Homo sapiens: one gene and its partner. The protein of the gene in region 1 interacts with the protein of each later gene in a pairwise test. Each region holds a gene or a part of one and is shown in the gene's direction. Other genes may lie near its edges. The genes, in order: SLC12A6 and DYSF.

The links.
Region 2: the proteins of SLC12A6 (region 1) and DYSF interact in a two-hybrid assay, tested with the Homo sapiens proteins (one large-scale study listed by BioGRID and IntAct).

What each region holds. Positions count from the first base shown.
Region 1 is NC_000015.10:34,331,164-34,334,977, reverse strand, and holds part of SLC12A6 (solute carrier family 12 member 6), read left to right. Parts: intron 1-3,814.
Region 2 is NC_000002.12:71,682,963-71,686,776, forward strand, and holds the end of DYSF (dysferlin), read left to right. Parts: intron 1-3,491; coding exon 3,492-3,530; 3' UTR 3,531-3,801; downstream 3,802-3,814. UniProt on the Homo sapiens protein: Key calcium ion sensor involved in the Ca(2+)-triggered synaptic vesicle-plasma membrane fusion.

The sequences.
Region 1 (3,814 bases):
TGTTAGACTTGTGACTTACATGTTACAGAATTGTATTTTTATTCTTTGGAAAAGTGGACTTAGTAATGTGTTAGACCAGCAGAACAGGTTCCTTGTCCAGTCTGCGGTTCTTACGTTACCCTTAAGCATTCTTTACAGTCTAAAGTGGTATCCTTTTACACTATAGGGGTAAAAATGGGACTACAGGGGTAAAAATGGGGACATATCTAAGTGAAATTTATGTTTGTTTACGTGGTTACAGATGTTAAAAGCTTGGTTCTCTATATAACACATTCCTTACTTAATGTTTAAATATTCTCCGGTACCCAGATGAAAGGGAAATTAATAGTCTGGCCATTAGAGAGGACTTTGCCCTATTCTCGTGGAACTTTATACTTTCTCAGTGACCTACCTTTTCTCTTTTTTTTTCTTTCTATATTTAAAAAAATTCTTATGATGACTGTCATCATGTGATAAATTTTCCCCACCATTAGAAGAAACCACTTAGAAACACAATTATTTCACCCTTGACTTCTCAGTATGTGAAAGCCCTTGTTAGATTTAGATGTAGATCTTCAAAGGGTGCTGTTGTGAAGAAAAGGGCCTAATGTTAATATACACTTCCCTCTAGGCTGGCTTTAATATAGATAACAACTGCATCCTTTCTACAGTTGACTCTCCTTAAGCTCATAGTGCATTTCACAGTTAGTTTGCTATTTTAGTATTTACAGTTCTCTGAATTTTTTCACCCTTTGTACATCCTTCTGTGGTTGTGACATTAGTATGATTCTCCTTTCCCCCATGCCTCCCACGTTTCTTCCTGTAGAGAAACTTCCCACCCGAAGTTTCTTGTCATATGTCTTCTACTCACATTACATCACACAAACAGGAGGTGACACATGAAGTTTTTTTTGTTTTTTTTTTTTTTGAGATGGAGTTTCACACTTGTTGCCCAGGCTGGGGTACAAGGGCGCAATCTCCACTCACTGCAATCTCTGTCTCCCGGGTTCCAGTGATTCTTTTGCCTCAGCCTCCCAAGTAGCTGAGATTACAGGCATGCACCACCACACCTGGCTAATTTTTTGTATTTAGTAGAGATGGGGTTTCATCATGTTAGTCAACCTGGTCTCAAACTCCTGACCTCAGGAGATACACCCACCTTGGCCTCCCAAAGTGCTGGGATTACAGGCGTGAGCCACAGCGCCCAGCCCTACATGAAGTTTTAAATACTTATTTCAGTATATTTTAATTTTTTCTGCTGTTGGCTTTCTGAGTAGTTTTCTTTCTGCTATCAAAGTAATTTTTCTTTCATTTTGGCAAGGCTCCATTTGAATTTATAGGACTGTCCAGTTGGTAAAATCAAGAATCTTAGCAGTGTATTAGCTTATGTATGAAGAACGCCTTAAAGATACAAAAGAAACTGTTGAGAGTGGATGCCTCTGGAAAGTGAGTTACAAAAATAGAGTGGAGCCAGGCACGGTGGCTCACGCCTGTAATCCTAGCACTTTGGGAGGCCGAGGCGGGTGGATTCCCTGAGCTCAGGAGTCCGAGACCAGCCTGGGGAACACGGTGAAACCCTGTCTCTACTAAAAATACAAAAAATTAGCCAGGCGTGACGGCGTGCGCCTGTAATCCCAGCTGCTCGGGAGGCCTTGACAGGAGAATTGCTTGAATCCAGGAGGCGGAGGTTGCAGTGAGCTGAGATCACGCCGCTGCACTCCAGCCTGGGTGACAGAGCGAGACTCTGTCTCAAAAAAAAAAAAAAAGAAAAAGAAAAAAAAATAGAGTGGAATTTTCTTTTACCAAAACAATTAAGGGCATATACAACTTTTAAGTATTTATAGTGTATCACTTTTATAGTAATTTTTTTGAAAAGCACCACATGTTAGAGCTAATGATCTAGAATCTTATTCTGATCAAACCACATTTTAATAAGTGAGGAGACTTAAAACCCCAATAGATTAGACTAAAAAAATAACAAAATAAATGAGGAAACTAAGGCTTATAGAGATGGTTATTTGTAGATCACAAAGTGGCAAAGCCAAGACTGAAGTTCAGGCCTCCTGACTTTTATCTAGTGCTCTTTCTTGCATCATTTTGCCTCTGCTATGATGAACATTTTTTACATGTGCTTTATAACCATGTGGCTATAAAACATATTTTTATATGTCATTTGCAGGACCTAATACTTTTTTTCTTTTTCTTTTTTTTTTTTTGAGGCAAAGTCTCGCGCTGTCGCCCAGGCTGGAGTGCAGTGGCGCTATCTCGGCTCACTGCAACCTCCACCTCCCTGGTCCAAGTGATTCTCCAGCCTCAGCCTCCCAAGTAGCTGGGATTACAGGCATCTGCAACCACACCCGGCTAAATTTTGTGTTTTAGGAGAGATGGGGTTTCACCATGTTGGCCAGGCTGGTCTCAAACTCCTGACCTCAAATGATCCTCCTGCCTCGGCCTCCTAAAGCTCAGGGATTACAGGTGTGAACCATACACCCTGCCTGCAGTCCCTAATACATTTCAACCTTTTATAAGTCAACAGATACTCCCTGAGACGCTGGTATGTATGAGGCAGTCTGGTATTAATTGTAGGAAATATACAGGTAACATATAGTTTCTACCTTTGCAGATCTCATGGTATAATGGTGAAAATGACTAGAGCACTTTACTTATTCCTTCACCAAATATTTGTTACTCTGAGCAATGAGTTAAGGATAAGGCACTGGCTGGCTGTTAAAGATGTTGGGTGTTAAAGACAGAGAAAAAGCATCCGTTAATCTGTTCTAAGGAAAGTTATGATCTAATAGACAAAGCAAACACATTTGTATATAAATTATAATGCTGTATAAGTCCAACAATAGAAATATGCAAAAATACGGCAAAGGAAAATGATCAACTAAGATAAAATAGAGACACTTAAGAGACTGGAGGACTTGATAAGGTAAAGTGTGGTGAAAAGTGTAGAAAGATTAAAGACTGTGGTCAGACGGTTGAATGTTGTTGGAGTGAGCAATTTCAGAGGTAGAGCATTTCTCATGTAATGTGATCTAGTGTGTAGCCTTGGAGTGGGTTTCTGAAGTGGAGAGTTGAGGTCTAAGTGTAACAACTTTGAGACTGGCTGTTAACCAAGTTTTTGTGAGAGATGTTAGAGACATAAAAGTAATTTAGATAAGTCCTTTCTTTAAGGAGTCATGTCCTCTCTGAAACCTTTTCTGATTGAACCCCATATCCAGATATAATAAACCAGGCTCTTTTTGTCCCTATATTGCTATAATACCTATATCACTATATTTTGTTTTTATTTACATATTATCTTTCTCAACTATGCTGTAGGGTTCTTGAGGACAAGGATACAAAATCATTTACACCTAGTGTAATATGTGATATCACATATAACTTGTACACCATAAATATACATTGAGTTGAAGATCTTGTAGACTTAAAAACAAGAGACAAATTAAAAACGTACTCTGATAAAGGCATATTAATGTATGTACGAGAGTAGTGCTACTTCATCTGGCTGCATAATGAATGATCTAGAGAGCTTTTCAAAAAATGCCTCTAGGCTGGGCGCGGTGGCTCACGCCTGTAATCTCAGCACTTTGGGAGGCCAAGGCGGGCGGATCACTTGAGGCCAGGCGTTCGAGACCAGCCTGGCCAACATGGTGAAACCCCGTCTCTACTAAAAATATGAAAACTTAGCCAGGTGTTGCGGTGCATGCTTATAATCTCAGCTACTCAGGTGGCTGAGGCATGAGAACCTGGGAGGCGGAAGTTGCACTGCAGCCTGGATGACAGAGCGAGACTCTGTCTCAAATAAATAAATACCTCTACCCTGACA
Region 2 (3,814 bases), on another chromosome or scaffold:
GGGTTAGGAGAAGATGAGGCCCTTTGGGTTGCGGTGGGCAGGGGGACTTTCTGGAAGGGAGGTGTGGAACTGGGTCTGAAAGGAAGGTGAGATGTTGATGGCAGAGCAGAGAAGGTCCCTTTGTCTTAACAGCAGTTGCAAATCCAGAGGAAGGGAGGAGCTGGGGCTGGGAGAGCATCTCAGGGTCCACCTGAGGCACTCAATAGAGTGTGTCCTGCCTCCTGCAGCAGGTGGGCATAGGGAAGCTGTCGGGGAGCGGGAGGCTGGCCCAGGAGCCCTTACTTGGCTCGGTGCCCATTTGGGTTTCCTTTCACTTGGTAAGAAGCCAATTGATGAGCTTGTGGGGCCATACCAGAGGTGGCTGTCGTGCCCTTGCTCTGTGGGGCCCTGCCTGGGGGAGGAAGGTCCCTGCCTGTGCTTCCCCAGCCCGCACAGCTCATCAGGGAACCCGGATCACCAGGGAGCCTCCCCCAGTGTCTCTGATACTTTAGACCTTGAAGGGGTTGCAGCATTCTCAGGCTGACACCTGATTTCTAATGCTCTTTAAAATTTAAAAGAAATCTTTTTAATATGAAAACTCCAACCCTATATAAAAGTGGAGAGAATGGTGTAATCCACCCCTTGAGGACCTTATGTTGGTGGCAAAGACGCAAACACCCAGAGAAGGAAAGGGCCTGGCCGTAGGCTGCACAGTATTCCATGCACACTCCCAATCCAGGGCTCACTGTGATTCCCACTTCAGGCCTCAGTCCTGGTCAGCACCAGGCCACTGGCCCAGAGCATTGATCCCATGGCAGACAGGCTGCTTGGGGAACTGCCCCCAGGTGAGCTCTTTGCTCTGTGAGTCCTCCAGGAGGAGGAAAGGGCAAGAGCCCCTCCATCCCACTGCAGCTGGCTATGCCCATGTCTGCAGAATGCATCTCAGAGAGGAAGAGAGTTATAACCACACAGCTTTCCATGCAGTTCTAACAGCTGAACTGAGAGGAGCTGGGGAAAGGATGTCTGGTTTGGATGTCCGGACCAGCTACCATCTGGGCCATAGTGACTAAGGAGAGTCTAGAACCAGGGTGGTGAAGGGTCTGCCTACAGGCCAGGCCTGCTAAGCTGGCTGTGGTCACCTGAGGCGCAATGGAGAAATGTTTCTGAGGTTCTGAGGTTTGTCCATCAGCAAAATCTGACTGTGGTCCAGGGTAGATCTAGGTTGCAGGGACTCGAGGTGTGTACGATGTGGGAGGCCTCTTTAAGCCAAGGGAGACGAGATTACAAATATAAGCTGAGATACAGGACTGTGGAAGAGTGTGTGCACGTGTGGTGTCCTGCAGCATGAGCTGTTGCTGTGACCTGAGATCCGGGGTCAGGCCCCAGGACTTCTGCCTGGTGTCTCCTGCCCAGGGGGCACCCTTCCCAGCCTGCCTCAAGCTCCTCCTCCCATTCGGAGCCCAGCTGGCCAGTGTTCAGTTAGCCACAGAGACTCTAAGCACGTGTGTGCGTCTGGGAGGTAAGGGCGTGTTTTGGGGATGAGGGAGAAGAGGATGAGGCCTCATGCCACTGGGGAGTGCTCACTTCCCTGGGGAGACATTGAAACCAGAGAGTAAGGAAAAGTACTGTGGATGATCAAATGCTCTTTTGGGAGGCTCAGGCCGTGGGAGTTTAGGAAGAGAAGAGCTGCTGCAGACCCTCGCCCTTGGTGTAGTCGGAGGACTAGCAGCAGTAGCACCAGGGAACTCACTAGAAACTCAGAGTCCCCGGCCGGCCCCGGCCTGCTGAGGGGGAATCTGCATGTAGGCACATGATGGTTGGAGAAACCCTGTTGGATGTGACAGAGCTCTGTCGCTGGAGTCAGGATTATGGACTCTTCCTGTGACCTTGGCAAATCCCTCCTGCTCACATGAGGAAGGGGCTGCACTAGGTTAGCTCTGGCCTTCTGTGGCTGGGACTGTGCTTAGGGGAGCACTGTCATCTTCCCTGGCTGCTGTATATTAAGCCAAGCCTCCTTCTGAAAAGCCAAGGGGAGGGGAAAGGCAGGTCCAAAGTGGCATCACCACCACCCATGACATGCCTAAGCCCAGCCCCTGCCAGCTGCACCCTGCACTGCTAGGCTACTGGGCAGCAGATCTAGGCCTCCAGGGGCCTGGGGAAGGAGGCCCTGCTGCCTGGCTGGGAGAGGAAGGAAAGATTTCCAGTCACTTCCAGCCTGTGGTCCTTCCTCATCGCTGTGGGCAGAAGCAGAGTGGTACTGTGGGGGGCCTGGTCAGAGCTCCTCCCTGTCTCCTGTCCCCCCAGCAGCGGGCCACTCTCCTTTGAGTTCTTCTGGAAGTTGTCCTCTTTAAAATATGGACCCTGCTTCCCCTCTCCCAGGGCTGGTGTGGGGATGTCAGATCCTAGGTAAGGGGTCTAGGGATGAAGGGGGTGGCCTGGGCCTGAGGCTGCAGACTGGCTTTGCTCACAGGTCTTTGCTACAAGCTGAGCACATCCTGCCTCCTTCCACCCAAGTCACTCATTCATTTGGCCAGTACCAGATGATGAGGGCCGGGCCCTGGTGACCCTCACCTGGCTTTCAGGCCATGGGACAGAGGCTGCCTGCCCCAAGCCAGGGCCTAGTGGAGAGGGGCCCAAGGACAGGGCAGCTTCCTCCAGTTGGCCTAATCCCCTACCCTCTTGGAAATTCCCTTGGGAGGGGTATGAGGGGGCAGCCTGTCTGATTCCTCTCAGCTTCCCCCTCAGAGCCAGCCGGGAGCAGGGCCAGCGTGGGGAGGCAGGAGGCGTTTGGCGGGGAAGGAGGGCCGGCTCTGTTTCCAGAGTTGGCTTTCCCCAGCCGGCGCTGGGGAACATACTGTCCCAATTAGGAGCCCTGTATTGTGTTGTATGTGTTTTCATGGTTTTTGGGGGGAGAAGTGGGGAGGGGAGGATACTGTCAATCCTGCAGCAGGCAGGGCTCAATCAAGGGTGCCCTGTCTCTAGTGCTGGGCTGTGCCGTGGGTCATCCACGACAGCCCATCCCCAACTCTCTCTCTGCTTTCTGGACAGGGGTGTGATGACCCGTAAGCCCTGGGCTGCCATGTGGGGGAGGACCCTGGGCCCCACCTTCAGCACCTGTCTGATGGAAGAGGCCAGGTCCAGGGTGCTCAGAGTCCTCTGGGCAGTCAGCTGGAACCTGGAAATGGGCCTGGCTTGATGGGGGAGAAGACAGAGCAATTTGGGCAGCTTTGGCCCCCAGGTGGGAGGGTGCGGGTGGAGTTTCGGAGGGTATGGGTTTGCCTGATGGGCTGGAGCACTAGGCAGGGCGGAGTGTTGAGCCCCACATGGTATGGATGGCAAGTGGTGAGGGCGAGGCGTGGGCAGGTGGTTGAAGAGCCACGAGCGTCCTCTCCCAGCCTCTTGCCTGTTGGCAGCTTAGCCCCATCCTCTGAGCCCCAGGTCTGGGACAGCTGCTCTGGCTGTGCCTGCCCCAGTGGGATCACCATGGGTCCCTGTCTCCTCCCTCCCTCCAGAACTATGCTGCCATGAAGCTGGTGAAGCCCTTCAGCTGAGGACTCTCCTGCCCTGTAGAAGGGGCCGTGGGGTCCCCTCCAGCATGGGACTGGCCTGCCTCCTCCGCCCAGCTCGGCGAGCTCCTCCAGACCTCCTAGGCCTGATTGTCCTGCCAGGGTGGGCAGACAGACAGATGGACCGGCCCACACTCCCAGAGTTGCTAACATGGAGCTCTGAGATCACCCCACTTCCATCATTTCCTTCTCCCCCAACCCAACGCTTTTTTGGATCAGCTCAGACATATTTCAGTATAAAACAGTTGGAACCACACAGCAGTGTCAGT